Regions from separate parts of the Homo sapiens genome. Here region 1 is linked to region 2. The links come from fine-mapping of genetic effects on gene expression. A gene starts in region 2. The other region holds a variant in brackets. All regions are shown on one strand. Distances are from middle to middle. Region 1 has its middle 38 kb from the start of MTURN. Region 2 holds the start of MTURN (maturin, neural progenitor differentiation regulator homolog).

Region 1 (4,395 bases), 38 kb after region 2:
GCTTTTCCAACGGGTTTAACAAACGGCACAACAGGAGATTATATCCCGCACCTGGCTTGGAGGGTCCTACGCCCACGGAGCCTCGCTCATTGCTAGCACAGCAGTCTGAGATCAAACTGCAAGGCGGCAGCGAGGCTGGGGGACGGGCACCTGCCATTGCCGAGTTAGTTGTTTGATTAGGTAAACAAAGCAGCCGGGAAGCTCGAACTGGGTGGAGCCCACCACAGCTCAAGGAGGCCTGCCTGCCTCTGTAGGCTCCACCTCTGGGGGCAGGGCACAGACAAACAAAAGGCAGCAGTAACCTCTGCAGACTTAAATGTCCCTGTCTGACAGCTTTGAAGAGAGTAGTGGTTCTCCCAGCACGCAGCTGGAGATCTGAGAACAGGCAGACTGCCTCCTCAAGTGGGTCCCTGACCCCCGAGTAGCCTAACTGGGAGGCACTCCCCAGTAGGGGCAGACTGACACCTCACATGGCCGGGTACTCCTCTGAGACAAAACTTCCAGAGGAACGATCAGGCAGCAGCGTTTGCGGTTCACCAATATCTGCAGTTCTGCAGCCACCGCTGCTGATACCCAGGCAAACAGGGTCTGGAGTGGACCTCCAGCAAACTCCAACAGACCTGCAGCTGAGGGTCCTGACTGTTAGAAGGAAAACTAACAAACAGAAAGGACATCCACACCAAAAATCCATCTGTACGTCACCATCATCAAAGACCAAAGGTAGATAAAACCACAAAGATGGGGAAAAAACAGAGCAGAAAAACCAGAAACTCTAAAAGTCAGAGCGCCTCTCCTCCTCCAAAGGAACGCAGCTCCTCACCAGCAACGGAACAAAGCTGGACAGAGAATGACTTTGACGAGTTGAGAGAAGAATGCTTCAGAAGATCAAACTACTCCAAGCTAAAGGAAGAAGTTCGAACCAATGGCAAAGAAGTTAAAACCTTGCAAAAAAATTAGACAAACGGCTAACTAGAATAATCAATGCAGAGAAGTCCTTAAAGGACCTGATGGAGCTGAAAACCACGGCACGAGAACTATGTGACGAATGCACAAGCCTCAGTAGCCAACGTGATCAACTGGAAGAAAGGGTATCAGCAATGGAAGACGAAATGAATGAAATGAAGCGAGAAGAGAAGGTTAGAGAAAAAAGAATAAAAAGAAACGAACAAAGCCTCCAAGAAATATGGGACTATGTAAAAAGACCAAATCTACGTCTGATTGGTGTACCTGAAAGTGATGGGGAGAATGGAACCAAGCTGGAAAACACTCTGCAGGATATTATCTAGGAGAACTTCCCCAATCTAGCAAGGCAGGCCAACATTCAAATTCAGGAAATACAGAGAACGCCACAAAGAGACTCCTCAAGAAGAGCAATTCCAAGACACATAATTATCAGATTCACCAAAGTTGAAATGAAGGAAAAAATGTTAAGGGCAGCCAGAGAGAAAGATCGGGATACCCACAAAGGGAAGTTCATCAGACTAACAGCTGATCTCTCGGCAGTAACTCTACAAGCCAGAAGAGAGTGGGGGCCGATATTCAACATTCTTAAAGAAAAGAATTTTCAACCCAGAATTTCATATCCAGCCAAACTAAGATTCATAAGTGAAGGAGAAATAAAATACTTTACAGACAAGCAAATGCTGAGAGATTTTGTCACCACCAGGCCTGCCCTAAAAGAGCTCCTGAAGGAAGCACTAAACATGGAAAGGAACAACTGGTACCAGCCACCGGTACCAACATGCCAAACTGTAAAGACCATTAAGGCTAGGAAGAAACTGCATCAACTAACGAGCAAAATAACCAGCTAACATCATAATGACAGGATCAAATTCACACATAACAATATTGACCTTAAGTGTAAATGGGCTAAATGCTCCAATTAAAAGACACAGACTGGTAAATTGGATAAAGAGTCAAGACCCATCAGTGTGCTGTATTCAGGAAACCCATCTCACATGCAGAGACACACAGGCTCAAAATAAAGGGATGGAGGAAGATCTACCAAGCAAATGGAAAACAAAAAAAGGCAGGGGTTGCAATCCTAGTCTCAGATAAAACAGACTTTAAACCAACAAAGATCAAAAGAGACAAAGATGCCCTCTCTCACCACTCCTATTCAACGTAGTGTTGGAAGTTCTGGCCAGGGCAATCAGGCAG[G/A]AGAAGGAAATAAAGGGCATTCAATTAGGAAAAGAGGAAGTCAAATTGTCCCTGTTTGCAGATGACATGATTGTATATCTAGAAAACCCCATCGTCTCAGCCCAAAATCTCCTTAAGCTGATAAGCAACTTCAGCAAAGTCTCAGGATACAAAATCAATGTGCAAAAATCCCAAGCATTCTTATACATCAATAACAGACAAACAGAGAGCCAAATCATGGTGAACTCCCATTCACAATTGCTTCAAAGAGAATAAAATACCTAGGAATCCAACTTACAAGGGATGTGAAGGACCTCTTCAAGGAGAACCACAAACCACTGCTCAAGGAAATAAAAGAGGATACAAACGAATGGAAGAACATTCCATGCTCATGGGTAGGAAGAATCAATATCGTGAAAATGGCCATACTGCCCAAGGTAATTTATAGATTAAATGCCATCCCCATCAAGCTACCAATGACTTTCTTCACAAAATTGGAAAAAACTACTTTAGACTTCACATGGAACCAAAAAAGAGCCCGCATTGCCAAGTCAATCCTAAGCCAAAAAAACAAAGCTGGAGGCATCACGCTACCTGACTTCAAACTATACTACAAGGCTACAGTAACCAAAACAGCATGGTACTGGTACCAAAACAGAGATATAGATCAATGAAACAGTACAGAGCCCTCAGAAATAATGCCACATATCTACAACTATATGATCTTTGACAAACCTGACAAAAACAAGAAATGGGGAAACGATTCCCTATTTAATAAATGGTGCTGGGAAAACTGGCTAGCCATATGTAGAAAGCTGAAACTGGATCCCTTCCTTACACCTTATACAAAAATTAATTCAAGATGGATTAAAGATTTACATGTTAGACCTAAAACCATAAAAACCCTAGAAGAAAACCTAGGCAATACCATTCAGGACATAGGCATGGGCCATGACTTCATGTCTAAAACACCAAAAGCAATGGCAACAAAAGCCAAAATTGACAAATGGGATCTAATTAAACTAAAGAGCTTCTGCGCAGCAAAGAAACTACCATCAGAGTGAACAGGCAACCTACAGAATGGGAGAAAATTTTTGCAACCTACTCATCTGATAAAGGGCTAATATCCAGAATCTACAATGAACTCAAACAAATTTACAAGAAAAAAACAAACAACCCCATTAAAAAGTGGGTGAAGGATATGAACAGACACTTCCCAAAAGAAGACATTTATGTAGCCAAAAAACACATGAAAAAATGCTCATCATCACTGGCCATCAGAGAAATGCAAATCAAAACCACAATGAGATACCATCTCACACCAGTTAGCATGGCGATCTTTAAAAAGTCAGGAAACAACAGGTGCTGGAGAGGATGTGGAGAAATGGAACACTTTTACACTGTTGGTGGGACTGTAAACTAGTTCAACCATTGTGGAAGTCAGTGTGGTGATTCCTCAGGGATCTAGAACTAGAAATACCATTTGACCCAGCCATCCCATTACTGAGTATATACCCAAAGGATTATAAATCATGCTGCTATAAAGACACATGCACACGTATGTTTATTGTAGCGCTATTCACAATAGCAAAGACTTGGAACCAACCCAAATGTCCAACAATGATAGACTGGATTAAGAAAATGTGGCACATATACACCATGGAATACTATGCAGCCATAAAAAATGATGAATTCATGTACTTTGTAGGGACGTGGATGAAGCTGGAAACCACCATTCTCAGCAAATTATCACGAGGACAAAAAACCAAACACCTCATGTTCTCACTTATAGGTGGGAATTGAACAATGAGAACACATGGACACAGGAAGGGGAACATCACACACTGGGGCCTGTTGTGGGGTGGGGGGAGGGGGGAGGTATAGCATTAGGAGATATACCTAATGCTAAATGACCTAATGCTAAATGAGTTAATGGGTGCAGCACACCAACATGGCACATGTATACATATGTAACAAACCTGCAAGTTGTGCCCATGTTTCCTAAAACTTGAAGTATAATAATAATAAAATTTAAAAAAAAAAGGAGTTCGAGACCAGCCTGGCCAATGTGATGAAACCCTGGCTGTATTAAAAATACAAAAAATTAGCTGGGCGTGGTGGCAGGCGCCTATAATCCTAGCTACTCAGGAGGCTGAGGCAGAAGAATTGCTTGAACCCAAGAGGTGGAGGTTGCAGTGAGCCGAGATTGCGCCACTACACTCCAGCCTGGGCAACAAGAGCAAGACTCTGTCTGGA
Region 2 (4,395 bases):
TTTTACAGTCAGCTGGATTCTGGTGCCCTTTCCACTGTATCCTGGGGGCTTTCTCACACTTTTGCAATGGAGTGAATCCCTTTTTAATGATCTCCCACTCCTTCCAAAAAGAACACTTATTTACTTACTTTACCTACAGTTAAGATGGGCTTACAGGCATTAATATTATTGTTCAGTTGGCTCTTCTGGAGGTATTCTGATTAGCCCCATTTTACAGGTGGGAAAACCAAGGCTCTTTAAAAAATGAGACAAGCTCTAAATTCTGGGAAACCCCAGGTCTCTAACCCCAAATTTGTGGGGCTCTTGCTGTGTGTTAGGGACTATTCGGTGCGTTACCTATATGAACGCCTGGGTGCTGGCATTATTATACCTATTTTTTTGGATGTGGAAACTGAGCTCAGGGTGGGTATTTGAGCACAGTCACAGAGCCAGAACTCAAATCTGGCTGTCACACAAGGCCATCCCTCTTCTGGAGTGCCACTTGTGGAATGCCCAGGTGGATCCCTGCCCTCCTCAGGGGGTGCGTGTGGGCGGAGGGAATGCTTTATCGGCCAGGCATACATAAGCCTTCACCTCTCCAGGACCAAGAAAGGCGGTCTTGCAGTCTCCCTAACTCCTTCGCGAACTTCCCGTAGGTGGTCAGGGCGCTCGGCGGCAGGACCACGGCCCAGCTTTGTCTCCCCCACCTGAGGAGCGTGCACCAGGCCGCGCCCCGCACCACCCCACCTCCGCCCACAAGGCCCGCGACCACACGGTCACCCGCGCCCACGGCCGCCTCCATCTTACATTTGGGGATCATTATTTATTCCCCGACCTTGGAAACACTTCATGAGCACCGTGCTCGCCCTACTCCACCCCTCCCACCCCGACTCCCCTGCCCTCCGCATCCCCTTCCTCAACTGCCAGAGTCGGGATCCCAGGTGGGTGCAGGATTCAAAGTGGAAGGTTTGGACACCGCAGTCCCAGTTCCCGGTCCCTCTGAGCCGGGGCTGAGGGGATTCCCCGTCATCTGGAAAAGCCAACGGGCTTCAGCAGGGCCAGGGCACCGCCTCGGCTGGAGAGAACCCGCCCGGGCCACACACACCTCTCGGGCAGCTCAGAGAGGCAGCGAGGGCAGCGCGGGGGCAGGGGGAGAGGCGTGCCGCGTGTGCGCGTGAGTGTGCGCGTGTGAGGGTGAGGGTGTGAGCATGTGTGTGTGTGTGTTGGGGTGTATGCGCAGGCGCGCGTGCGTATTAAGATCCGGGGTGTAATTCCGCAAAGAAGGTCCAGGAGATCGGGCATCGCTAGTATGGACAGAGCTTTGTGTCCAAACAGGCAGTGCAAGGACTAACCCGCGAGGGCGGGGAGTGGGGTTCTCCCGGGAGGGGCAATGCGAGGAGCCGAGGCTGGGCACCGGAGGGGAGCGGGATTCCTATCCCGGACGGGACGCCTGGATGTGGGAAGCTCCGGACCTGGGCTCCTGCCGGAGGGTCCGTGCGCCCCAGACCCGGCTGGTCCGACGCGGGTGACACCCACACCCCAGGGATGCTCCATGCCAGGCACCGCGCACGGGCCGCGAGGTCGGGTTCCCGAAACGGCGCCCGCAGCAGCGGGGAGAGGAGTGGCCTTTAGGGGGACGCCACACCTCCCGCCCCGACCCGGCTCCCCGGATCCTCCGGGCGCCTTGCCCGCCGCCCACCGGGCCCCACCCGGGCAGCGGAGCCCGCACCGCCCGGCCCGGGGCTTCCCCGGCGGAGCACGCGGGGCGCGGGGCGCGGGTTACGGCCCCCCACTCTGCGCCCACCGCCGCCCACCGCGCGGGAGCTCGGGCGCAGGGACGCACCGCCGCGTCCACACTCCCGCCGGCTCCGGCGGTCCCTCCTCCAGGCACTCACAAAATTGTCGCCGCAGCCGTTGTCCGGACACAGCACATAGAAGGAGACGCCGGGGTCGGCGTAGAAATCCATCCTGCGTTCGGTCTCCTCGGTGGCGATGAGCTCGAAGGGCGTGTTGGAGCACCATTTCTCCGCAACGTCGGCCAGCTGCTGGAAATCCATCGCGGCCCCGCGCCCGCCTCCCGCCGCCGCCCGCCCTCCCGCTCCTAGGCGCCCTCCTCCCGGGCGGGCAGCGCGGCGCTCGGCTCGGCCTGCGCGGGCTCCTCCGGGGCCGGGCTGGGCCGGCTGGGACTGTTTACATGCGGTGCGGAGTGGGGCGGGCGGCGGCCGGGGACAGCGCGGCGCCGCGCCCGCGGCTCCTCCTCCGCCCCGCCTCCCCCCGCCCCCTTGCGGGCCGCCGTGGGGGTTGGCGCGGCCGGGCCGGGACGCGGGGCGGCGGGAGGAGCGGCCGGCACCCCCGCGGGCGCCCGGATTTTCCTGGGCGCTCCCGCCCCCCCTTTATTTTTAAACAAACCCGGAGCATCCCGGGGCCCTGGCCATCGCGGTGCCGCCCCGGGCCGTGACGTCATGGGCCCCAGCCAATCACCGGAGCCTGAGACCGCGCCGCGGCTTGCGAGCCCGGTGACGTCACAGCGCGAGCCTGGAATCCGCAGCTCCGCGGGTTACCTGGAAGCGGTGCGAGCGCCCAATACCTGGTTAGCGTTTCTGTGGAGTTAGAAAGCCCAGGAAGCGTTTGCCCAAATGCGATTTAAATGCAAGGGAGGCCATAGAACTGCAGATAACTTGGACCTTGTCTGGGGCTAGCAGTGGAGGAGCTGAGAAAATCTAAGGAAAAGGGAGCTTTTCTTTTTGCAGAAACCAAAGTTCTGTTCTCCGATTGATTTAAGGGAATGTGTCTTCTTAATGCATTTATCAGACACTAATATGAATGTTCACTTGCAAAGGGCGTGTGTGATTTTTTATTTGCGTTACGTAAAGCTGAATATTTCTTAGAAATGAGCCTCATAAGACTGGCTTCAGTATTATTCAGCTTGAATTCACATTGCATAACCTAAAAAGGTCAAGAGGATAAAGCACATTTTAAAACAAGAGTGTGTGGCCCAACGATTGCACCTGTTGAGTGCTCACTGGCTGCCATATACTGGACAGGCATTACTGGATTGCAGAAAATGCACTAGGGTCCTCGCCCTCAGGACTTGAACACTACAAACACAGACACGTTATAAACATTCAGCCAGCTTTTTTCTGTAAAGTGTGTCTTCTGAACCAGGCACTGTGCACGAATTTACATTCCCACCAACACGTATATATGTTTCCTTTTCTCTGCACCCTCACCAACATCTGCTGTTTTTTGACTTTTTAATCATAGCCATTTTGACTGGTGTGAGATTGTATCTCATTGTGGTTTTAATGTGCATTTCTCTGATAATTAGTGGATGTTGAGCATTTTTTCATATGTTCGTTGGCCACTTGTATGTCTTTTTTGAGAAATATCTGTTCATGTCCTTTGCCCACTTTTTAATGGGTTTTTTTTTTTTCTTGTTGAGTTGTTTGAGTTCCTTGTAGATTCTGGATATTAGTCCTTTGTCAGATGCGTAGTTTGCAAATATTTTCTCTCATTCTGTAGGTTGTCTATTTACTCTGTTGATTGTTTCTTTTACTGTGCAGAAGCTTTTTAGTTTAATTAAGGCCCATTTGTCTATTCTTGTTTTTGTTGCACTTCCTTTGGGGTTTTAGTCATAAATTATTTGCCTAGGCCAATGTTGCAAGGAACTGAATTCTGCCAACAACCCGAATGAGCTTGAAAAGCAGATTTTTTTCTCAAACTTGTTGTCTTTTCCAGACAAGAACTGAGCCTGACTATTACCATGATTGCAGCCTTCGCAGAACCTGAGCGAGAACCCAGTGATGCCATGGCTGTGCTGGGACTTCCGACTTTCAGAACTGTGGGCTATTAAATGGGTGTTGTTTTAAGCTGTTAGGTCTGTTTAAATTCTTCATGCAGCAGTAGAAAACTAATACACAGGACAATGAAGGAGACAGGCACATGAATATAAAAATGCAATATGCTGTTGTAAAGTTACAAAATGGTCCTTAAAAAAAAAAAGTATGGGTGTCTCCAGATAGCACAAGCTTCCTTGCAGTTTTACCTGGCACCACCATTTAAAGCATAATATGTGTTCCAAAAATGAATTCCTTAAATTGGAGATGAAAATATGAAAAATACATTCCTTTTTTCCTTTTTCGGGAAAGAAGGAGTTTTTTTTTTAATCCATGTGTTTTAAAATGTATCAGTCAAATTTGCTCCAAGTGATGTGATCAGAATTATGAAGTTATGTTTATTTAACAAATAGTTTTTGTCAGAAAATGAAAAACTCTTATGAAAAATAAAATTTTGGGTACAAAGCAATTGGTCAATGAAATGGATACCGTTGGGTTTCCTTAGAAATGCACTGAGAGCAACAGCAAAAGCTTCAGAACTCCATGTCTGCATTGATTCCTCCCTCTGCCATTTTAAGTT

The links. PIP is the estimated chance that this variant, and not a neighbour inherited with it, causes the effect.
Region 1: its variant is the best candidate, but not a certain one, in a credible set for the expression of MTURN in whole blood (TOPMed, PIP 0.78).

Annotation. Positions count from the first base shown.
Region 1 is chr7:30,094,290-30,098,684 of GRCh38, reverse strand. It overlaps a transcript of PLEKHA8 not described here. Among named protein-coding and RNA genes, the nearest start is that of MTURN, 38 kb to the left of the region's middle. The variant G/A (reference allele first, on the strand shown) is at 2,161.
Region 2 is chr7:30,132,778-30,137,172 of GRCh38, reverse strand. It overlaps MTURN (maturin, neural progenitor differentiation regulator homolog), which reads right to left and starts at 2,187. Exons shown (of 3, transcript NM_152793.3): 1 at 1,875-2,187. The coding sequence starts at 2,036. LOC105375216 (a long non-coding RNA gene) reads left to right here and starts at 2,459. Exons shown (of 3, transcript XR_927146.3): 1 at 2,459-2,569; 2 at 3,718-3,856. RefSeq lists silencers at 1,060-1,239, 1,560-1,699, 1,892-2,269, 2,040-2,289.